Linked DNA regions of Homo sapiens: all the other regions are linked to region 1. Evidence: fine-mapped expression QTL. A gene starts in region 1. Each other region holds a variant in brackets. All regions are shown on one strand. Distances are from middle to middle.

What was found. PIP is the estimated chance that this variant, and not a neighbour inherited with it, causes the effect.
Region 2: its variant is the best candidate, but not a certain one, in a credible set for the expression of GUCY1A1 in whole blood (TOPMed, PIP 0.64).
Region 3: its variant is the best candidate, but not a certain one, in a credible set for the expression of GUCY1A1 in whole blood (INTERVAL, PIP 0.85).

Annotation. Positions count from the first base shown.
Region 1 is chr4:155,663,276-155,671,463 of GRCh38, forward strand. It overlaps GUCY1A1 (guanylate cyclase 1 soluble subunit alpha 1), which reads left to right and starts at 3,573. Exons shown (of 10, transcript NM_001130682.3): 1 at 3,573-3,690; 2 at 4,071-4,144.
Region 2 is chr4:155,692,287-155,700,474 of GRCh38, forward strand. It overlaps GUCY1A1 (guanylate cyclase 1 soluble subunit alpha 1), which reads left to right. Exons shown (of 10, transcript NM_001130682.3): 3 at 4,470-4,836. The coding sequence starts at 4,582. Among named protein-coding and RNA genes, the nearest start is that of GUCY1A1, 30 kb to the left of the region's middle. The variant G/A (reference allele first, on the strand shown) is at 4,556.
Region 3 is chr4:155,720,145-155,728,332 of GRCh38, forward strand. It overlaps GUCY1A1 (guanylate cyclase 1 soluble subunit alpha 1), which reads left to right. Exons shown (of 10, transcript NM_001130682.3): 9 at 1,894-2,048. LOC105377506 (a long non-coding RNA gene) reads right to left here. Exons shown (of 8, transcript XR_007058484.1): 6 at 7,686-7,832; 7 at 7,390-7,415; 8 at 4,274-4,362. Among named protein-coding and RNA genes, the nearest start is that of GUCY1B1, 35 kb to the right of the region's middle. The variant C/A (reference allele first, on the strand shown) is at 4,217.

The sequences.
Region 1 (8,188 bases):
TTCTTTTCTACTTTTTTTTTGTTTTGAGACGGAGTCTCGCTCTTCTCGCCCAGGCTGGAGTGCAATGGCGTGATCTCGGCTCACTGCAACCTCCACCTCCCAGGTTCAAGCAATTCTCCTGCCCCAGCCTCCCGAGTAGCTGGGATTACAGGCACCTGCCACCATGCCCAGCTAATTTTTTGTATTTTTAGTAGAGACAGGGTTTCACCATATTGGTCAGGCTGGTCTCGAACTCCTGACCTCAAGTGATCCACCCGCATCCGCCTCCCAAAGTGCTGGGATTACAGGTGTCAGCCACTGCACCCAGCCCCCTTTCTATTTTCAAAGCCAGCAATTGCTTATCAATTCTTTCTAACATAGCATCACTCCGACTCTGACTGACTCTATTGCTTTAATCTTTCTTTTACAAGGACCCTTTTGATTGCATTTGGTTCACCCACCTAATCTGGAATAATATTCCCATCTCAAGACTAGCTGATTAGTAACCCTAATTCTATCTGCATCCTTACTTCTCTCTTGCCATGTAAAATTGCATATTCACAGGTTCTAAGGATTAGCAGGTAGACATCTTTGGAGTGCCATTATTCTACCTACCACTGTATTTACTGCTCACAAACACCAACTCCTTGGCAAAAATATAGTGGACAGCATTTCTGTTACCATCAGAATCTCTTCCAGTCCAGGCTGCTTTGTGAATGTCTATACCAGGACTAGAAATGCGTGGACGCCAACCTAATAAGATCTAGTTTTTCTAACTAAAGCTTTACATTCATACAAAAGAGACATTTTGGAGTCTTTGCATCATCTTACTGCAAGTTACCAGTGTAAACTTTAACCAGGTACATTAAAACAAATTGAAAATGAATAATACTAAGAAAAGGAGGAAATAAGGAGCCAGAAGTTTATCTTATTTTTCTTATATTTGAGAGGTTATCCTAATTTGGTAAACCATACAATCCATAGTTTGTTCGTTTGCTAAAAATAAAACAAAGCTCTGACCCTGACATATATGTAACACTTCTCTCATTTCTACCCTTTTACTGTTCTCTATCTCGTTCTTAATTCCCCTTGGTTTATGGATTTTTTATGGTCCACAAAGTCAGTAGAGATGAAACCATTAGTCCCATTACTTTATTTGAACTGACATGGCAATAGTAACCCAGAAAAATAAAGATGCAGGTTCTAAAAATCCCTGAATTTAGAAAGATTCATACGATGTGTTTTGAGGCTTATCATACTTAATGCCTTGATAGTAGACCAGTGCTTTTCAAACTTTAATGTGCATAGGAATCACTTGAGGATTCTGTTTAATGGATAGTCTGATTCAGTTGGTTTAGAGAGGGGCCTGAACTTCTGTATTTCCAACAAGATTGTAGGTTATGGGATACTGCTAATATAGAAACCATACTCTGAGTAGCAAGGATTTAGATACTATCTCTAGTTGCCATTGTCCTTTCATTTGCAAGTGTGAAAGTAATGTACATTTAAATGCTTTCATGCTGTTGTCAATTGTGGGTTGTAGGTACAAGAAAAACAAAGCATCTTGAGAGGAAATAAAAATTTCTTGAGCTTTTCTGCCAGCATCAACATGGCTAAGGAGATTGCTTTACACTGAGTAATTTTCCTTGTTAACATTTTTATTAAGTTGTCATGACAACTTTCTTATTCTCCATAAAGTGGAGGAAAGTAGGTTTTAACCCATAAGTCAACTATAAGAAAGAAGATTGGACCTGGAAGATGATGAAATATTCAGGTATTCATTTATCCACTCAGCAGGCATTTTAGTGAATCCCGTTATGAACCATTTTCATTACTAGGAAATTAGGCTGTGAAGATTAGTATTTCCCTAACAACAAGGAACTCTTGTTACTTTTTTAGAGCATATCAAACATCCAGATTACAGAATGTCTTTTGCAGTCACCTTTTGGTGGTTCTAGCCACCCTTATGTTTAGATTGGTTGCTTCCTCTTCTTACCCATTGTCTGACAGTCAGAAAGGATAGAGGAGGAAGAAGACAAGACACTATCCAGTTGAGAGTCTACTCTTAGTAAAACTCGGTAGCTCCTGGCAGAATGTACTGGGGTCAAATGCAATACTAATCAAGGAGTTTGGTGTGCCATAAAACTTGAGAATGGTAAAAGTAGAAATTAATGGGTTAAACAAGTCATTTTCCAGAATGAAAGGAATATTGGTAATGGTATCAACAGACGAGGACAACAGCAACAACAAAGTCTTTATACAAGCCTGCAACACGTGACAACTGCGGATCAGGCATCTGAACCCGGCCTATCTTTCCACCGTATCTTCCTACACTTTTCTTTATGTACTTTTTATTTCTACCAGATGGTATTACTCCTTGTTTCTTGAATAACAGTGTCATGCCTTTCCAACCTCTGTATGTTTGCTCACAAGTTTCCCTCTGTCAGAGAAAAGCAAAAACAACAAAAAAGTCCTCTATTTTATCTTTTTCCAAACATAACCAATCCTTCAAGTCCTATCTCTAGTACTGTTCCTTTATGAACCCTGTCAGACAATATCTCATTTTCTTCTGAATGTTCATAGCATTTACTTAAAAATAGTATGACTTCCCTCTTCTTTTTACTAATGAATTACTGTGTATTTTTTAAGTTTCCTTCTACATCTGAAGTTCTAAATATTCTTAGTACAAATGTCCTACTGATCTAAGAGAGTATCATGGGTTAAATGTAGAGGAAGAGAAGTTTCTGAGATGGCAGGAAGGCAAAAGTTTCTGTGACTACCTGTGCTTATATTGCTGACTTTCTTAACTGTTCCTGACTTATTTAAATGTATTTTTTTCCTGATTCTGATTAATGTTCACTATGAGGCAAGCACAGTAGGCAAGACTGGGAGAAAGTTTGCAAATGTGATGAGCTTACAAATGGGACCAGATTAGATGGTGTACTTGGGGGAGATATAAAAGAGGAAGATAACCATGAATTGAACTGAATTGAAAATGGATCACATAAAGATCATGATTAATTGTTAATTCACAATGGAACAGCATGATGGGATTTTTTTAAGTCAGAAAGGTGACTAAAAGCATAATATCACAACACACACAACGGTAACAAATATAACTAAATGCACTGAACCAGGCAGAAGCCAGACCTTACTGAAAAGATGTAAAATCTCTGTAACCATAAAACTGCATCTGCAAATGAGTAGATTGGCTTCAAATCTGAAAACCAGGACAAGAGAGTCATCAGCGCAGATGTCAACTTCCCCAGCAGAAATGTTGGAGTTTTTAACTGTGGAAAACTACAGTTTTTCCACACCAGTGCATAGTGGAGAAGACATGTTTTTGTTTTTCTTTTTAAGTGTGCCAAATTTTCCTGGAGTCCCCTCCAATTTTTTTCTTTCTCTCTCTCTCTCTCTTTTTTTTTTTTTGTCCCCTGCCCCTAGGTCTCTGTCTCCACACAGTGATTTCTGTTATGGCGATTGGGCGGCTGCAGAGACCAGGACTCAGTTCCCCTGCCCTAGTCTGAGCCTAGTGGGTGGGACTCAGCTCAGAGTCAGTTTTCCAGAAGCAGGTTTCAGTGCAGAGTTTTCCTACACTTTTCCTGCGCTAGAGCAGCGAGCAGCCTGGAACAGACCCAGGCGGAGGACACCTGTGGGGGAGGGAGCGCCTGGAGGAGCTTAGAGACCCCAGCCGGGCGTGATCTCACCATGGTGCGTTTTGGCTGCTACTTTCTTTTTCAGTCTTTCGGTGCGGAGAAGGGGAGGAGGCGGGCAGAGGTCTGAAAAAATCGAATGCCTTATGGAAAGGAACTGCAAGGGTTCCTTTGGGGTGATCAAAGAGGGAGACACAGACACAGAGAGACAAAGGCAAGGAGGACTGTCTGGGAGCCACGCGGGCGATACAGTTTCCGAGGCACGCCGCGTCCCGCCTAGCCTGTTGAACAGGTAGACATGAGCGACCCAAGCGTAAGTGCCGCTGCCGCGAGTGCCCAGGGTGCACTCGCGCGGGGACCGACAGGTGCCACTGCAGGGTCCCCTCTCCCGCTCACTGCCTGCCACCCCTGACGCCTGCTCTCTTTCTCCATTCGCAGTGCGGATTTGCGAGGCGCGCCCTGGAGCTGCTAGAGATCCGGAAGCACAGCCCCGAGGTGTGCGAAGCCACCAAGTAAGTGGTCGCTGCATCCCCACGCGGGTCGGGGTTCTTCAGACAGGCGGTCCCTCTTCCGGGACCCCCGCTTGGGCTGGGTCTCCTTCCTCTCCTGAGAAACCTTCGGTACGCTCCCAGTTGCCCAGCCCTGGGAAGCCAGCATCGGGTTCCCACGCTGGGGAGGAGCGAGAGGAAAGGAGAGGACGCCCGAGGGGCCGGCCCAGGGCCCGGGGGACCCGCGGCGCCCGAGGGAGGAGCACAGACGGGGGTGGGCGCCGAGCAGCGCCGCGCCGGCTGCTGAGCTCGCGGGGCCGGGCCGTGAGAACGCGCGGGGCGCGCCGGGGCCGCTGGTCTCCCACGGCCAGGGCGCCTGGGCCCCAGAGCCCATCAGCCGCGTGCAGCGCTGCGGCCTCCGGCGCGCCGGCAGGCAAGCGAGCGGGCGCAGCTGGGGGATGCCTGGACCCCGGAGGCAGCAGGGCTGGAGGCGGTGGCGGGCTTCAGGGCAACTTCACCCGGCCGGCTGCGGCGTGGGTAAGAGGCGCGTCCTCCTCCACAGCAAAAGCTGCGATCGCTGGGCTGCCCAGAGAAGGCAGCCGGCTAACTGCCCAGCGGCTCCACGAGGTGTGCGCGTGTGTGCGAGAGAGACAAATGATTTACTGCTTAGCAGTCCCATTTCTGTTTTCGTTAGGACTGCGGCTCTTGGAGAAAGCGTGAGCAGGGGGCCACCGCGGTCTCCGCGCCTGTCTGCACCCTGTCGCCTGAGCTGCCTGACAGTGACAATGGTGTGAGGGGCTGCGTTGCAATGTGGTCATGTGATTTCAGGCTATGGATTTCGTGCGTCTTTCTCTGCTCACTGATTTTCACATGGTTATTCTTTCATTTTGCACTCGATAAACAGTTTACATCTTCTGAAGTAAGCCAGAAGATTGTATGGCTCACTTAACGATGACTGGTTGAAGGCATCTTGATTTGGAACCTATGGAAACAGTGCTGAGTTTTAAATAGGACAGATTTTTTTTTCTTTCATTTGAACTTCATTTATAACATATCAATAGTGATGTTTTAGGATCAGTTCTCCTATGGTAATTTCACTAAATGCCTATTTAATGAATTGATTTGATTTCATACATCTCTACCACTTACTAGAACTGTCTTTGTACAAACGTCAAACTTTCCTGTTACATATGGGTAAGCATAGAAGCACTTGATATAATTTTTTTTTATCTTGGTTCAGAGTGTAGAAGTGGTCTGTTGCTTTTCCTAAAATTGCTATACATATTTTTTCTTTAAGAGTGATCATTTCAGGTACCCTATTATGTACAGTGGTAAAAAGTAAACTCGTTATGATAGCAACGACGATGTAACCAAAATAAGCAACACTTAATTGGTCTGAAAGTTATACATATAAGCTTTATTATTGCTTCAGTGGAAGTTGTCTATGCATTCTGTGCTTTGTTCAGCCATTAAACAACTGGGTCCGTGATCTTCTTCAAGGGGCCGTGAAGTCCCTAAAATTGTATTTAAACATTAGAGTGGCTGCATTTTAAGGGAGATAGTACATAGTCAAATATCCAAAATGGACCTGTGTCCTAATAGAAAATTAAGAACCACGGGGTAAAAACACGTAAGCCATACTTTTTCTTATCAAAACAACAGGCTGTCTACATACAGCCTGCAGACATAGGCTAGAAGGAAAATTCTAGAACAATTAAATGGTGTTACCGTAGTTAAATATTTCACATAAAATAGACCAGATGTATGTATTTTAATGTATTAGGAAACAGGTCTGTGAACGTATTTAGTAGAAATTTGTAATTAATAGATGGGTACCTTATATTTATATTTATAAGGTATATTTATACTTTATATTGTAAGATCTCTTTCTATTATACGACAGAAAATAAAAATTATATTTTTGTCTTTGAAATCCAATCAAAATATAAAGTACTTATGCTTGGTATAGTGTCTCATAGTGTATGAAATATAAATAGCCCCTTAAAGGTCTTGCTTCTAGATATTCAGGTATTAAATAACATGATTAAAATCGTTTTCTGTCATTCGGAGAATGAGGAAGGAAATATAAAATTATTTTATTTATTTATGGCAATACCAAAAACAAAAGTGTGAAAAACTTCACAATGCTTAGTACTTATAACTCTTATAATTATGTCTTATTAAGGGATCTTTCTTAAGACATTTTGAAAAGCTATTTTAATATTTCACTACAAACAAGTGATAATATTAAAATTAAAGTATATCTATTACAAATACATCAGTAAAATATTTTGTGACCGAATTTTAAGAATTTTGTTATATTTTTCAAATGAAATTGAAAAAAATTAAATGTTTATCTAACATCACTTTTATTGACACATTGATATTGCATAACTTTGAATTTTTTCAGAAACTATACAAGGGAAATTAAATCCTGCATTTACATTTGCTAGCAACTAATGAGTGTGGACTGAGGATAATATTTCTTGCTTTACAGGTTAGTTTAAAATAACACGATCTGCACCCCCATAATTTCTAATTAACCTTTTTTCAGAACTAAATAAACATCAAATTAGCCATCAGAATGAATCTCTACAAGTAAGGGGAAATGGAAAGGTAAAGCAACATTTCAGTAATACAAGCCAAAAAGTATGTGCATTAATGGGAAAAATTTTTGGAGGAAGCTGTTACTGAGAATGACTTTTTCTGTCAGATTCACTAAGAAGTTGCTTGGCTTTTATTTGTGAGAATATTCCATTTTGAAGGCACTATTTTTACACTGGTTAATTAAAAATATTTACCCAAGCCACTTTTCTTAAACATTTCTATTTATTACTTTTCTGCACATTTGTAAAAACAAATTTTTTCCCCAAAGTATTAATAATTAAAAATATGTTTGTCTCTTGACCATCTACATTCATTCTGCAATAGTTTGTTTTGGGTGTCTACATCTTGACTTGATATAAGAAGAGCTTTTGTCAATGTTTAGTTACTAGTTGATTTACTTTGGGTGAAGTAATTTCCTGGCTATCCTGAATCATATCTGCTTCTTTTATTTTCTTTCAGAACATTTTGAAATGTCTTACCTATTATATATGTAATTTTTCTTCTTCCCTGGGTTCATGCCAATAGGCTTCATCTTCCTATAGCCTCGAAGGCTTACAGAGGATGAACAGAGTTATTTTGGAGGGGTGAAAGAAGAGCTGTAGAGTGGGCTTCCCTCTCAGCCCACAGTAGGAGAGAATGGCTACATCTTAAAACTTGAGGGACTCTGGAGCAGGCTCTTCCTTGCCACAAGAATGTGCCTCACAGCCTGTAGTTTCTAACTTCTGGTATGCTTTCTGGCCATTAAACAATATTTCATTAAAACAAATCCTCCATTTTAAAAATTGAGGCCAAGTCAAATTAATTAACTCACATACCAAGTCATCTATCTCACCATACTAAGAATTAGCAGGAAGTCGACACGAGACAATGGCTTTGAGAGTGAACACCTTCTTAGGGGGGAAGCAAATGGGGCAGACCCATTTCTTAATCCTGACCTTTTTTTCTAGGTCCAGCCTATCTATTTATCCCCTTTTGCTATGTCACATGACATTGAAAGTACCTGTTTAAATGTCTGCATCTCCCATTAAACTCAAATCTCCTTCACGGTATCCAATGTTGGATCCATAGTGCTTGGTGCATAGTAGGTGTCTAAAGAGCTTAACATTGTTGTCATTGTTATTCTTGAATTAAGGCTTGTTTATGCTTTGATGCTACCACATGGAGCTATGGTCTTGGTGACAGAGACCCTTGTGTGCTCTTCCGTCATATAGTTTGTGGCCTCTTCAGAATTGCTTGTAAACTGTTATTTATTTCACCAACAATTTTAACTCTGCTCCAACCCTTAAATCTCTTGCCACTAGACCTACCAGAACCTGCCTTCCCAATGTCAGCTTCACTTTTAATGTTTGCTTTACCTTCCTTGCTGTTGATTTAGCTGGACAAAGAGAGACATAACTGTATCTTGTAGCCAACTACCAATTGCTTCACTCCAATGTCAGCTTGGAGGATACTTTGTGCAGC
Region 2 (8,188 bases), 29 kb after region 1:
TATATTCTTTTGGGTGTATACCTAGTAGTAGGATTGCTGGGTCAAATGGTATTTCTGTCTTTAGGTCTTTGAGGAATTGCCACACTCTCTTCCACAATGGCTGAAGTAATTTACACTCCCACGAAGAGTGTAAATTAAAAAGCATTCCTTTTTCTCCACAACCTTCTCAGCATCTGTTATTTTTTGACTTTGTAATAATAGCCATTCTGACTGGTGTTAGATGGTATCTCATTGTGGTTTTTGATTTGCATTTCTCTAATGAGCAGTGATGTTGAGCTTCTTTTCACATGACTGTTGGTCACATGTATGCCTTCTTTTGAAAAGTGTCTTTTTCTAACTTTTCATCTGCTCCTTAAGACCTGCTTTTGGAGAAAAGTGTATCAGTGCCAGAGAGTGTGGTAAGGGGTGTTTTCCTTACATGATATTGTTACATGTCTACATGATCTTGTTACATGTAGTAAACAAGATGTTCATGCCTAATTGAATTCTAGGATGGGCATGGTGGCTCACGTCTGTAATCCCAGTGCTTTGGGAGACTGAGGCACGTGGATCACCTGAGGTCAGGAGTTCGAGACCAGCCTGGCCAGCATGGCGAAACCCCATCTCTACTAAAAATACAAAAATTAGCTGGGCATGGTGGCTGCCACCTGTAATCCCAGCTACTTGGGAGGCTGAGGCAGAAGAATTGCTTGAGCCCAGGAGGCGGAGGTTTCAGTGATCCAAGATCATGCCACTGCACTCCAGCCTGGATGACAGAGTGAGACTCTGTCTCCAACAAAAAAAAAAAAAGTTCATGCTTCATTAAATTTTAAATTCTAGAGTTTAAATGATTGAGGGTTGCCTTACTTGCACAATAATCTGTCCCTGTTATTAATACTAGGCCAGTAGCTGGGTCATTATTCTCACCACGGCAAAGTTAATCACTCACTAGTAAAAAGAGAGTGAGCATTAAGTTTATTTGGAGGCTGTTTAATTATCAACTTTTGGAATGAGAAGTACCTCTTCAAGTTTCTGAGAACATATTATTCCACTTCTTGCCAAGGCCTGTCGCCAAATTTATTATTTTAATTTATTTGTTTTTCCCTTACCATGTTACTACCATCTCTACAACCAACTATGTACTGAATTCACCCACTGACCAAACCATTTCTGAAGTTACTGCTAACGTTACCCATAAAAATCATCACTAGTTTACTTGAGGAACAATCTTTTGCCTGCCAGGAATATTCTGTATTCTGTATTCCTGGCAGGCAAAAGCAAGACAAACAGGTTTCCAAGGTATCAACACTGCGTGCATCTGCTTCATAGTGTAATTTCATCAGTTGAGCAGATGAAGAATGCTAATTAGTTTGTTTATACATATGTAATTTAATGAGACTAAACACTTAACTATCTTAAAGTAAGCACAACTTACTTCCTGTTGGCTGTTTTTGCTTTAATAAAAAACACTGTTCGGCTTATTTCCTGGAAATTATAGTACCGTGCAGTACAGGAAAAGAAATTATTTCAAGGAAGGTTGACTGGTCAATTGTATTCTACTGCAGCTGGATTCAGTAGGAAGATAAGAATTAAAATATTGGGCTTGGGTACCAGCGTTGAAATCCAATGTGAATGAGAGAGTTAAGTTTAATGGAAAGATCTATTATAAACTATATTATGGCAAACTTCTAAGTCCAATACTAAAATTCTAATATATACCAGAATAATTCGTTTTAGTAATAATTCTATGCCATCCTCAGACCTAACCTATAATCTTCCATTTCTTATTGTCTTCCTTTTGTTTTTATGTACCCTTTTTTGCTAGTTATTGTAGTTAGATTTTGATATAACTGAAATAGTGGCATTCAGTTAATAAAGCTCTTTTCCCTGAAAATTAATACAAAATAGTGGTACTATTATTTGTATAAATAGTTATTTAGTATTATCTATTACACTCTTTTTGATTACTTTGAAGTTGTTCAAAAACTGGATCCCAGCCAGGCACAGTGGCTCATGCCTGTAATTCCAGCACTTTGTGAAGCCAGGGCAGGAGGATTGCTTGAGCCCAGGAGTTACAGACCAGCCTGGGTAACATAGTGAGACCTTTTCTCTACTAATAATAATGAAAAAAACTCTCCAAGCTCCCCAACCCCAACCAAAACTGGACCTGCGTAGGCTGTTATTTTTGGAGAGGAGTGACTAGAGGAGATGAGGAAATAACTTTGCTCCTATAGTCAAAATTATATTTTAATTAAAATGCTTTAGTTAATATACTCGGTTTTCTACAACCAGGGGTCAGCAAACTACTGGCTATGTTCACAGTCTGCTTTTACAAACAAGGTTGTATTGGAACACATCTGTGCCCATTCATTTGTATATCATCTCTGGCTGGCTTCACACTGCAATGGTAGGGTTGAATACTTGCAATAAAGACCATGTAACCTGCAAAGCTGACAGTATCTATTCTCAGGCCCTTTACAGAAAAGGTTAAAGCACTTTTAAAGCTTAAAGCTGATCATTGATTTGAAGCTTAAATCAGAAGAGAAGTTATTAAACAATAATAGAATTATGTTGAGATGTAGTAAAGACTAAGAAACAAATATTTATTACATTAAGTCCCAAAACAAATGTGGGTAAAATTATTAGATATTTAGGTTTTGTAGAACCTAAGTAATCATTCCCCCTATAGCCATATTACCTTTGGACCACTTCAGTAGTCTATTGAGGTAGACCGCTTCCATTCTGTTCTGGCAGAACAAATTTTCTACTCATAAATGCATAGGATTTTCTTTTGTCCCTTCTTGAAGTTCCATAAATTATATATGAGCATAGATTTTGTTTATAACTTTAGGTAACAGAGCCTTGGCAGCTTCTTCTGGCCTGCCAGCATCCATAATCTTCCTCTATACCTAATGTCCCATGACATCCCATGGGGATCAGATACTGAATTTAGCTTCCTTGTTTGTCCCAGTTCAGAAAATGAGTTGTTCATTGTTCTAAACTTATTAGATGACTTACATGTGACAATTTACAGGCTGTTGCTTATGGGAACATATTAAGGGCATTGAGGAGCATAGAAAATAAAAAAAAAAAACCTAATTGAACTTCAACTCTAAAGATTCAAATATAAGGCTGAATCTTGGATGTTTCAGATACCACTAGCCAATGAACAGGAAATTATGTTCCTCACTGAATTTTAATATAAATTTGTAAACCATATTTTGAAGATAAAAATCTAAGTTGATTAACAAAGCCCGATTGTGTAGAAACTGCTCTAATTTAGTAATATTAGTTTGGAGTTATAGAAAACACATTGGCTTTGGAGTCAGCTGAATCTGCATTTGAACCCTAGTTCAGTCATTCTCTAGCATTTGAAATGAGAGAAAACTACCTAAACTTTTGAGCTTCTCACCCATTGGGGATAATAATACCTGTGTTATGTGGTTGCTGTGAGGATTAATTGTAAACATAGAGTTCCCAGCACTGTGTCAGGCACATAGTACTTAGTACATGTGGGGATTAGCAAATATGGGTTCTTTTCCACTCTTTGTTTTTCTTCCCCAAGAGTAGGAAATAGCTGGTAGACCCAGTTAATCAAGATAATTAGTATTGTTGATGAACTGAATTCACAACTTGACAGTTCCAGTAACAAATAGCTAATGATAAATGGGTTGTGAATTGTGGGAGAATTTACAACCACAGCATCAACAAAAACAAAAGTACTGGGGGAAATATGCTGGAATGGCGATGCTTATGATTTCAGTGGGAAGTGGGGTAGTCTTTGACTCACCGCAGTCTAGATTTGTTTCCAGAGACCCCTGCAAATCCCATGGTATGTTCTTGGGGATCAGGAGTTCTGATGTTTTTTTCATTTTGATGATAATATTTTTAAATTGCTTTACCATTTAAAGTGATAAAATTTTTCTTTTGCCATAATCATCTTCATTGAACTTTTTTTCATTGAACTTTTTTTTTCTAAGTTGGTGTTTCAAATCTGAAAACATATACTTGGGGATCATTATACATATTGTTTTGCTTTAGGTATTTTTGGAAGCCATTGGTTTTTACTGTTCTGACTTTTCAGAAAGGAGAGCATAATGAGAATGTAGTAGTACAAGCATGAATAAAACATAAACTTAGATGTGGCTTTTGTCATAAAACCGTGGTGTTCCACTCTTGTGAAATCAAACTGGACCAGATGAGTGTAAAAAATGGAAATCAGTAGTTGATGCTAAGAACATTTTGGAAAAATATATTTTATTTTAAAAGTTAAAATAGTAAGAGGAAGTATTTTGCTAATATTGTGAAATTCACACATATTAAGTAAAGATCTTTGCCAAATGTCCTGCTCATTTTATAATTGGCATTTCCAGCAGAATTTTTTTAACTTGAGAATGACATGACTATTGCTTTTGCTCACCTGTCTTTTTCTGTTTTCATCCGTGCATAAAGTCACTCCTCTTTCTGTTCTGACTTTTTGCTGTCCATAGACATCCCAGTTACCAGTGTCCTTGAATTGATAGTGGCTTCTGTTTGTCAGTCTCATATAAGAACTACAGCTCATCAGGAGGAGATC[G/A]CAGCAGGGTAAGAGACACCAACACCATGTTCTGCACGAAGCTCAAGGATCTCAAGATCACAGGAGAGTGTCCTTTCTCCTTACTGGCACCAGGTCAAGTTCCTAACGAGTCTTCAGAGGAGGCAGCAGGAAGCTCAGAGAGCTGCAAAGCAACCGTGCCCATCTGTCAAGACATTCCTGAGAAGAACATACAAGAAAGTCTTCCTCAAAGAAAAACCAGTCGGAGCCGAGTCTATCTTCACACTTTGGCAGAGAGTATTTGCAAACTGATTTTCCCAGAGGTGAGTGCGTGCTCTTTAGATTTTGAAATTGTAATACTTTGAAATTGTAGAAGAATGTTTTTCCAAGGAAAATTTAAACACTTCCTTTCTCACTTTCAAGGCTACAATAAATGTAGAATATTTTCTTGAAACACATAAAAATATTCTTTTAAAGCAATTGTGTTCTTAAGTTGTGTTTTATCTTAAAATGTTTATGATCTTGAATTCTTTTCAAAAGAACACTGCAGTCTGACAAACTTTATGATTTTGGGCAACAGGCTTAATGCCTCTTTACCTCAGCTTCCTTATCCCTAAAATGGAAATAATAGTAGTACCCACCTTCTACAGTTTTAATGAGTTTTAAGTGAAACCATCCATAGCTCTTGCCATAACATAAGTGATCAGTAGTTGTTAGCTATTATCTTAAAATTAAATTCTTCAAAGAATAACTTATTTTCTGCTCAAATTTTCTCTCCTAATTTTAAAGAGCATCATACGTCCCCTGCCAGTTTTCAGAGTTGTGAAAATCTCCCTTGGCCACTTGCTCTGATTCTGAAGTTCTGCTCAAGCCAGTCTTGACTTTCTCCCTTGGGTCGGAGTCATGAGCCTGTGATTGCCTACACCTGCGTGTTATTAGGTCTCACACTTCTTCATATAGCCCTGCAAGCTGCATAGCATAGTGTCATGTTGAGATCTAGAGCACCTTCTGTCAATCCACCTTGAAGGAAACTTCTGGGAAGAGGACACAGACCTAAATAAATAGAAGAGCAGTTGAAGGTCTTCATGATGTCTTCCTCCCTCTGTCAGTCTTCATAGTTTTATATAGATTTGCTTAACCTATGAATTTGGCTGGACATTGACTTAATCAGACACCAGCTAACATAATACATTGATAATTTTTAATTGACTCAATACCAACCCTCTACTGTGTGCAAAGCACCAAAGAAACATGGACTGGCTGATTTTCAGAACTGAAAGGAATTTAACAGATAATCTTGTTTCACTCCCAGGAAGTGCTAGGGAAGTTCAGTGACTTGACCAAAATTACACAGCTTTCAAAGGGTAGAGCAATTAATTCCTGCTGTAAACAGTCCAGGCTGGAATGACTGAGAAAGAAGAAATTGAAGTTTGAAAGATGGATAAATTAGACTTAGCAGAAAGTTGAGGGAGTTTATTTCAGATATAATATTAACACAATAGTACTTTGGCAGATAACCTTTGAAATGGAAATGTTTAATTATTCTTACCACACTCTAGTTGCTAGACAGCCAGCATTGGCTAGGATAAAGGATAGAGCCCTCCTCAGGGAGTTGGTTTGTAGCACAGTCTGGGAAACAATCGGTGCTCTCATTTCAAGGACAGAGTGAAATGAACAGAAATGAACCAAAGGTGATGATGAGGAAGCTGAGATTGCTTCTATGTTTTCCCTGAATCCTGTCCTTACTATGTTGGCTTTATCATTTTGTTTGGTAAATTTTGAATTTCTGCAATGGAAGTCATACACATATTGGACTCTTTTTTAAAAAACATTATGGTTCACCTCCAGCCTGGGCGACAGAGCGAGACTCTGTCTCAACAACAACAACAAAAAAATTCTGGTTCACTTGATGGTGCCACCAAAAGTTCCACAGGCTTCCTTCATTCTTTTTCATTCATTCTTCTTTTTGCCCTTCTGACTGAATAACTTCAAATGACCTCTCTTGAATTTGCTGATTCTTTGGCTTAAGTCTGCTGTTAATGCTTTCCATTGAGTTTTTCAGTTCAGTTATTCTTTCATTCCAGAATTTTTACTTGGCTCTATTTTTGTGGTTATCTCTTTGTTGATGTTTACATTTTGCTCATGCATAGTTTTCTTATTTTATTTAGTTGTCTGTCTGTGTTTTCTTATAACCCACTAAATTTCATTATATTGAATTTTTTGTCAGGTAATTCATTGTTCTTCATTTCTTTAGGGCTGGTTACTGTAGATTTATTTATTTATTTATTTATTTGGTTGTATCATATTTCCCTGATTTTTCGTGTCCCTTGTAGCTTTGCATTGGTGCCTGCACACTTGAGTATGCAGTCACCTCTTTGCTTCTTTTCAGACTGGTTTTCACAGGAAAAGACATTCACCAATTGGCTCAGCTAGAGATTTTGAGAGCCTCTCAAACATTTTCTATGGATGTGCATGTTCCATTCCTCTCTTTTCCTGCTGAGGGAGAAGTTTCTGGGTGGTGTGCCTTCTCCTGATCCTGAAGAGCCATACAGGCTGCTATAAACTTCCCTTCTCTTTTTCCTAGGAAAATGTACTGAAAGACTAGGATGCAATACCAAATTAAAATTGTATATAAAAAATTTAGTAGTCTATGTTGTTTGTTCATGAGTTTGTAAGAATAAGCATTAAGATTTGACTACAGTGTCATGTAACAGAGAGGGCAAGACTATAGGAGATGGAAGAGGTATGTTTGGCATTAGTAACTAAAACTCCTCTCCAACTGAGATATTATCGTTATGGCAGTAAATGTTCCAGTGTTGAATACATTTGAGCTGTGTAGTCCTCAATCTAGATGACTTCAAACATCTGCTTATCTTTGATAAATACTTGTTATGTTTTTTTACTGATTATTTGTTAAGTTTATAGATTTAATGCTTAGACTGCTATTTAGTGTCAGTTGTATTAATAATACAAAAGAAGATATTTAAAATAGCATTTGACATCACAATTTTTGTTTTAGATAATCAGAATTAACTTCCTGGTTATATTTTTATTAGTGAACAGGCAAGTATAAAAATGTATTATCCTTAGAAAATGTAACATGAGAGAGGTCGTTCTCAAGTAATGGAATACTAGAGCTTTAAAAAGTCTTCTTGATCATCTAATGCAAACTTATCATTTCTATTTTAAGAAATAGAGACACATAAATTTAGATCTCTTGCTTAAAGCAAAAGATAACTGGAGAAATGGAAAACTCTCTGCATTTCATTCACAACCCATTGCTCTTCATAATATAATATTGTTTGCTCTTTTTTCATGGGTATTGTTTCCCAATAATTCTGTAAGCTCCTTCAGGCATACTGTCTTGAAGGAGCTTTTAATGGAGCCACAGTCAAAGCAAATCAGAAACCACTTACTGAATTGAAATAATTGAATTGGATATGCTTACATAAATGATAAGATCCCAAATCAAGTACCTAGTAAGAGTAGGATTTGAAGAGAATCACGAGGTCTGTAGATGTGTTCTAGAATATTAGGTTGAAAGAAGAAAAAGAAACAGTATTACAATTTATCTTATGAATTAAAATATTATTGGTCTAGAAAAACGTTAAGCACTGTAGGAAAATTAAAAAGCCAATGAAAATAGTGACTTATCCATAAACCACACCAATGATA
Region 3 (8,188 bases), 57 kb after region 1:
AGCAGAATATATTTACATTTTAATTATGAAACAAGATAAAAATGCTATGGTAAATTTAATATATAATAAGCTGGAGTAACTAAGTATAGGAAGAAAAACTGGTTTAACCAGAAGAGTGCTCACAGAAAGCAAAAATTCCTCAATCTAAATATGCTGAAGTCATAGTTGATATTTATGAGCAGAAGAGCTTTATTCTATCTATCTATCTATCTATCTATCTATCTATCTATCTATCACTTGCTAAATGTGTAAATTAATATTCTCCTAAAAGAGACAAAGCCAGATATATAACAGACATCTAAGTTTTGCTTGTTAAAGTAAAACTTTGATGAAGAAAGGTCTTTAAAAATAATCAAACCCCTGCATTTTATAGGTGAAAACATGATCGGAGGGAAGTAAAGAGACTTAAGGAAGCCAGACTACCAGTTACTAGTAGAGCTTGTTAGAATACAAAGTTCCTGATTCACAGTCTAGTGCTTTTGTTTGAAAATTTTGTAGAACTCATATGACATCTTAAAAGTAAATGAGTCTGGAAAGTTTCTAGCAGATATCTGAAATTAGTTATTAAAACTAGACATAACTGAATTCTTCTGATTTCTAAATTATATCCAAGTTACTGAGTTCTTGGTCTTCATTCAAAACGCATACATCTAATACAACTTTTTAAAATGGTTGAGTAAACAAAGAGTTTGAAAATAATTAACATGGTATCATCATCATTTAAAATATCTCCACTTTAGCTTGTTTTGTAGTAGCAGTAATTTAAGTGTTTGTGAATCTTTTAAGATCATCAAGTAATCAGACCTTTGAAGATTCCATTGTTAAATATCCTGCTTTGGCTAGGCAAGGTGACTTACATTTGTAATCCTAGCACTTTGGGAAGTTGAGGCAGGAGGATCACTTGAGCCCAAGAGTTTGAGAATCAGCTGGGCAACATAGCAAGACCTTGTCTCTACAAAAAATTTAAAACTTATCCAGGTGTGATGGTGCATGCCTGTAGTTCTAGCTACTCAGGAGGCTGAGATGGGAGGATCATTTGGGCCCAGGGGTTCGAGGTTACAGTGAACTATGATGGTACCGCTGCACTACAGCCTGAGTGACAGAGCAAGACTCTGTCTCTAAAAAATAAATAAAATAAAACATTCTGTCTCAGTGGCTTTCCAAATCATTGGAGACTTCCAGAATTCCTAAAATTTTGCCACAACACATCCCAGACTGCCTCTTATATCTAGGCATGGCACAAATCTGATCTTTCATCAGTATGGATTTTTAATTTCATGTATATAGACATTGTCATCGTCATTGGACTCAAGTACCTTCCACTTTCTGCTTCCTCTGTCATTTTCTGCTTAAATATTACAATTTCATTTCCTCAGTTGTAAGTCATTAGAACAGTGGGATAGTGTTTGGTATAAAGCTATTTTGAGGTAAAATGTCTAAAAGATATATTTAATATCCTTAGAGCTAGCTTCATTTGCCCTTCTTTGTCAGTGTTTGGGAAAATGATTCCAGGAGTCCAGAAATTATGTCTATCTCACTTGAATGAGAGGTGGCAGTTTCACATAAACAGCTCATATCCCCCTTGCTATGTTGCTGTGGTTACTATGATCCCTGTGCATGGAAACTTGTTTCAGATGTTGAAGACAGACACAATTAAGATGGTTTGTGTAATAAACCTAAATGGAAAAGAGTTAAGAAGTGTGACTGTTGATTCTGCACTAGTAATTTTTAATTGCATGTGAGGAGTAGAGGGAAGTTGGCTGAAGGTTTTGAGGAAAGGGGTGGTGTCCTGAGGGTGAATGGTAAAATAATTTAGACGGTATTCAAACGACACTGACGAGTAGGAAGTGTTTTACCAGTGACTGGGAACATCATGTTATTTTTTGCTTTCAGATGCGAATTGGACTGCACTCTGGATCAGTTTTTGCTGGCGTCGTTGGAGTTAAAATGCCCCGTTACTGTCTTTTTGGAAACAATGTCACTCTGGCTAACAAATTTGAGTCCTGCAGTGTACCACGAAAAATCAATGTCAGCCCAACAACTTACAGGTAGTAATTATGTTAAACACCTAAAATCTCTTGTTTTTATTTATATACAATTGCCATTTGCCCCACTGATTTGATTCATTCTTCATAACTTTTTTCTTCCTTAGTCGTAAGGAAAAAAGAAACGTGATAACTTTTATCATCCTCACTTTAACTTTTTTACACTGCTTATTAGCCTCCTAAGAATGACTTGCCTGAGGTGTTTGTGGCCCAGCCATAAATCCATGACAGATATTACATAGTCTTCCATCATTCTTCTTTTAGAAGCACATATTAATACTCTTAGTATGTTGATAGGTGTTCTGACATCAACTAGTACACTGCAGTGCAGTTCTGGCAGTAAACACCCAGACTCAGCACAGTCATAACCACAAGTTACAGGGCACAGAACCCAACAAGCCTGCCCTTAATTCAGATGCCAGCCACCCTTCAGGACCTAAGTATGCATTTAGACGACTGAGCTACAATTTTGGGGGTTCCCATGAACCTCTCAAGTTAGATAATTATCTAAAATGACTCACAATACTTAGGGAATTGCTATACTTACTATTACAGTTTTATTTCGAAGGATACAAATCAGAACCAACCAAATGAAGAAACAGTTTGGGTAAGGTTTGGGAGGGTCCCAAATGCAGAGCTTCCATAGAATCAGAACTTATCTCCCTCCAGCCACCTCAGTGGGTTCACAAGCCAGGAAGCTCCACCTGATTGAGCTTTGAGTTTGGTGTATGGAGTCTTATTGTTTTCATTATGTAGGCATGATTCGTTGAATCATTGGCCATGTGATTGAACTCAGTCACCACCCCCACTCTCCTCCCCAGAGGTTAGGCTAACACAAAACCCCAACCTTCTATCCACAAGATTGATTTTTCTGGGGCCCTGCCCCCATTCTGAGTCATCTCATTAATATAAACTCAAAAGTGATCCAAGGGCCTCATGGAAAACAGATACTCCTATAACTCAAAAAATCCAAGAGTTTTAGAAGCTCCCTCCCTGCAATCAAGGACAACAGCCAGTCAAATTCCCTATCATACAGGGAAGAATTTACCAGAGGAAAACTAGCTGGTCATCGAGCACTTTTCAAAGATTGCAGTTTTATGGACTGGCAGCAAGTGTTAACACGGTCAGAGGAGCCACGTGTCATCTAGCATCAGAAGAACCTTTATTTTCACTGTCGCCTTGACAACATGTAGTATACAGCCTGAGTCAATAAAATCTACCATTTTGTTATCACTTATCCACCTTTAACCGGAAAATAAACCAATCCGTGGTAACTAGAAATATATCTTTCATGTACATTTTGTCTCATTATATTGGAAACTCTTAAGTAACAAAAGAGTTTTTCAGATCTATACAGTAGCTAAATTATACTAAGCAAGTTAGCTTTCCTATTCTCAGAGATAACTCTTTAATAGCATCTTCTCCCTTCTTCTTCTGCATTTATTTATTTATTTATTTATTTATTTATTTATTTATTTATTTATATTTTTTGAGACTAAGTCTTGCTCTATGGCCCAGGTTGGAGTACAGCAGCTCAGTCTTGCCTCACTGCAAGCTCTGCCTCCCAGTTTCAAGTGATTCTCCTGCCTCAGCCTCCCAAGTAGGTGGGATTACAGGCGCCCGCCTCCACGTCTGGCTAATTTTTGTATTTTTAGTAGATACTGGGTTTTGCCGTGTTGGCCAGGCTGGTCTCGAACTCCTGACCTCAAGTGATCTGCCCACCTTGGCCTCCCAAAGTGTAGGATTACAGGCGTGAGCCAATGCACCTGGTCTTCTCCCTTCTTAAGGCACCAGCATCCTTTCCTTTCCAGCCCAGACTCTCAGTTGATAATCTTGCCTCATATTTCACCACCAGAATAGAAGTCAGACAGGAGCTTTGCCATCTTTGTGCTGTAGGTTCTCTCAGCAGAGCTACCCCAGTACTCATCTCCTCCTTCTTTGTTCCCATTACATTGGCCCAGCTCCCCTCCTGCCCCTGGTTGATACAGTTTTACTCTCAGTGCTATTTCCTCTCACCTTCTCAATAACTTTTCTGTGGAAATTAACTCTCTATGATCAATTTCTCTTTGATGAAATGATTATTCCCAACAGAATACAACCATATCTATTAAAGCTCTGAATTGAAAAATAAAAAATTCCTTGTTTCCAAGTCCGGCTTCTGCTACAATTTT[C/A]AATTTCTGCTCTGTTTTATAGCAAAACTGAAAGAAGTTGTCTATACTCACTATCTGTATTTTTTCCACCTCTTATTTTCTCTTCAACTCACTCCAGTCAGTGTTTACTCCACTCAAACGGTTCTTATCAAGGTCATCATTGTGCCCTGCTAAAATAAAATCACTGTCAGTTTTCTCTCCTTATCCTCTCAGAAGCATTTGAATAGGCTGAGAACTCCCTCATTTAAACATTTTCTTCTTTAAATTTTTGGCACCACATTCACCTAGTTTTCTCACTACCCCATGTCTACACCTTCTCAGTGTCTTCTCTTGGTACTCCTTCCCTACCAAACCTTTGTTGCCGTGCTCAGAGCCTCTTTTCCTGTTATCTTCTGTATCTGAACTTTTATGACTCTAACTATTTTTTAAAAAAAATCTTTCGCCCATCCTGTGATTCTCTGCAGAGCTACAGACTCATATATCCTATTCCATATTTCCACTTGGATGACTAATTCACATATTAAAATGAACTGGACCGAATTAGAATGAGTGATTTCCCACACAGACTGATGAAATCCACTTCCCACCCAGGCAAGCTTACCAATCACCTTAAAATGATATCACCATCCACCTAGTTACTCAGACCATCGACCTTACAGTGATCATTTCTTCTCCTCTCTTTAAAGAGACACTCCTTAACTATCATAACTATAGCAACAACCTTCTCCTCACATACCCTCTCATTATCCTATTTCATCTTCTCAGTTCACACCTGTATCTGAAATTGTCTTATGCAGTATTTATTTATGTGTTGATTGCCTGCCTCCCTTTTTAGAATGTTAGCTTCCTGTGGTACACATTCCATATTCCCAGCTCCTAGATCAGCGCGTGAAACACAGAAGGAAAGCAAGAAGTATTTACTGGTTAACTGTTGACTCCTGGGTATGAAAACAACTCAGTATAACCTGAGAATTGGAAAAATCCCTGGGGTTCATTGTAATGGTAATTGGCCTATGGTCCTACTGGGTATAATAGGTAGGGATAAGAATCCATGCCTTGAGATAATATGATTCTACTCTCTCTGTAGGCATTAAGAGGAATCATCCTATTAAGTAGGAGTCAGTTGCCCATCCTTTCACTGACACCTGTGTTTCTCTTTCAATGTTAAGTGATGTGTTATGTGTATATGTGCATACTGAGGAATCCTACCTTAAAACAAAACTGCTACATATAAAAAGCATATTTTCCTTTTTCTTCTATATTGATTGTTTTTAACAGTATGAAACTAAACTTTTTAAATTCTTGCATTTTGTATCTCAAAGTCTGGTGGTCTTGAGTCATGTTAGGGGGCACTGATATTAGCTACTTATTTTTCTTCAAAATATAATTCAGGATCTCATGTATTTCAGCAGAGGACCACAACATGTTGACATATATTTCTGACAACAGGACAATGCTCATGACTTAAGTCTTAGATTCACTGTATTGGCAATGTTACTAGAAATGCACATATAGGTTTTTATAGCATAGATGGTGTTATCTTTTAAATAAATTTTTTATTACTGTGGTAACACATGCCCATTTCAGAAAATTTACAAAATTAGTAAATTATAAAGTAAGTAATAGGAATAAGTCATAATCTCATTACCCAGAGATAGTAACTATTAACATTTCTGTCTTTGTTTCAGTTACGTTTATATACACATGCATGAATGACATTGAAATTTTAATTTAATTTATATTGAACTTCAGCTCATTTGCTGAAGTCATTTCTACTTTTTATAGACAAATATGATATAGCTTTTTTCCTTTTGTATTGATTTCAATAATAGTTTACTTTCTTTTTATTCTCGTATATGAGATATTTATGCCTTGCCTAAGGGAAAGCAGTAGTTAATACTGTCTTATTTAGGCAAAATATAAATACTTAATGTTAAATACTTTTAACAACATTTTAAATTCCTTTCTTTCAGAGATACTTCACTTTTCTTCCATATGCTGGGAAAACTTAAAATAATATAAATAAATTTCAATTAAACATCCAATGCTTTGGGAAATTTAGTCAACGGTAGGGGCATAATTTTAGTTTTACTCAAACTATAGTACAAGAAGCGGCTGCTAAAGAAGGTGTACAAGCACAAAATGCAGTTTTCTTTGGAGAGCTTTATTGATGATACATTAAATTCTGGAATGATATTTCTTTAATAATAAAATAATCTGTTTAATATTGAATGTAGCTTCCATGATATATTTCTGAAATACAGGTAAATTTAGGACACAGAATACATACCTATACCAAAAAAAAACCTGTATCTTCAAATTTCCACTTCCAAATTCTAATCAGTGATTCAGAATGTAGCAGTGTAATGACAGTTATACACTCCTGTTTTTTAAACATTGTCAGGAGTTTTACTTTAATTTTAGGGGATAATATTCGACATTTTGTTTGCATTCTTGAAGTAAGGAAAACTAATAGAGACTAGTAGAGACTACATTAGATCAGTGAGTCAGTGGATCCAGGTCTACTACATTAGTTCCAGGTCAGTGGGTCAATGTTAGAGGATTATGTGGTGATCCAGGGATCATTAGAAACAAAAATGGCAAGTGGGGAGGATACATGGATGCTGTCCAGTTTGTGGGGTAAACAGGCCTAGAATCTCTTATTTGTAGGACAAGTCTGAGCACATTGTGCTAGAGAAGCAAGAATTGACTTCTGTAAGAAGAAGGAACAAAGTGAATAAAGGAATATAGGAAAGATAACAGAGAATTGGAGCATTGATGCAGTAATTTGCGGAAAAATGGTGTCTGGTGAAGAAGGTGTAGAGAAAAATGTCCACCTATGAGGACATCTGGGCTGTTGCTGCCTTTTTTGGGTGTTGCTATCATCAAGCTTTCATCGAAATGGTTTGTTTTTCTAAATGGTTTTTCTTATATATTCTGATTTTTTAAAAAGACAATATAATGAACATTTCAAACTCCATAGCATTCTAATTATGTTTGTCTGTTAAGTGTCTTTAAAAAGCATAGAAGTTGTATTCAGAAGACATGCCTTAGAGTCCCACAAACAGCACTTACCAGACGTGCAATCTAGAGCAATGCCCTTAATAAATTCAAATGATGCACTTTAAAGCCACTTCTAAAGGCTGAATATATGTATATAATACATTTAAATAGGAGATTATAATTGTCATTACCGTATTTAGTAGGAAATGTTGAGTTGCTGTAGATAGAAAAAATAATAGATAAATTTTTTTAATCACCTATAGTTTTATACATTTTTATTTATTAGACTCTTATAGTTGCATACATTTTTGTATTTAATTTTTAAACATATAAAAAAACAAAGCAAACAAGATGACACTCATGTAGCCAATACTAATATTTAAGTATCAACATTTTGCCATATTTCTTTCAGGTTTCTGTTTTATAAAAAAATAAAATGTAAAGTAAATAGATATTAATATAATAAAATATAAATAGAAACTCTTACATGGTCCCTGTTACACGCTCTGACACAATGGATCCTAAGTGCTTTATAGCTTGTAGGAGCTGAGAATATGTACTCTCTGCAGACAGTCTCCCAAATACAGATGCATGTTCAGCAGCTTCTCCACAACTCATCAATAAGATGTCACTTCTGCTTTCCAGGAAGGAAAATGGGTAGAGAGAGGCAGGAATATCACTTTCATTTAGGTCCTGCCAGATAGAAAAATAAAGCCAGAGGAAAATAGATTCCCAGTGAACATATCCATATCCTTTTAAGACTTGCCTTGAATCCACTCAGTATTATGTTTCTGAGATAGTTTCCTTGATAAAATGTAAATCTAGTCATAAATCTAGATTATTCATTTTAACTATTGCTAATGGAGTGGTTTGCTGGTAAACCAGCTTTGGAGGATGAGGTAGAGAATCCATGATTCCAGCATTTGCCAATTTCTGTGGTGTTACTATGTCCACTCTGGCAGGTTTCAGGCTATGGATGGCTTAACTGTC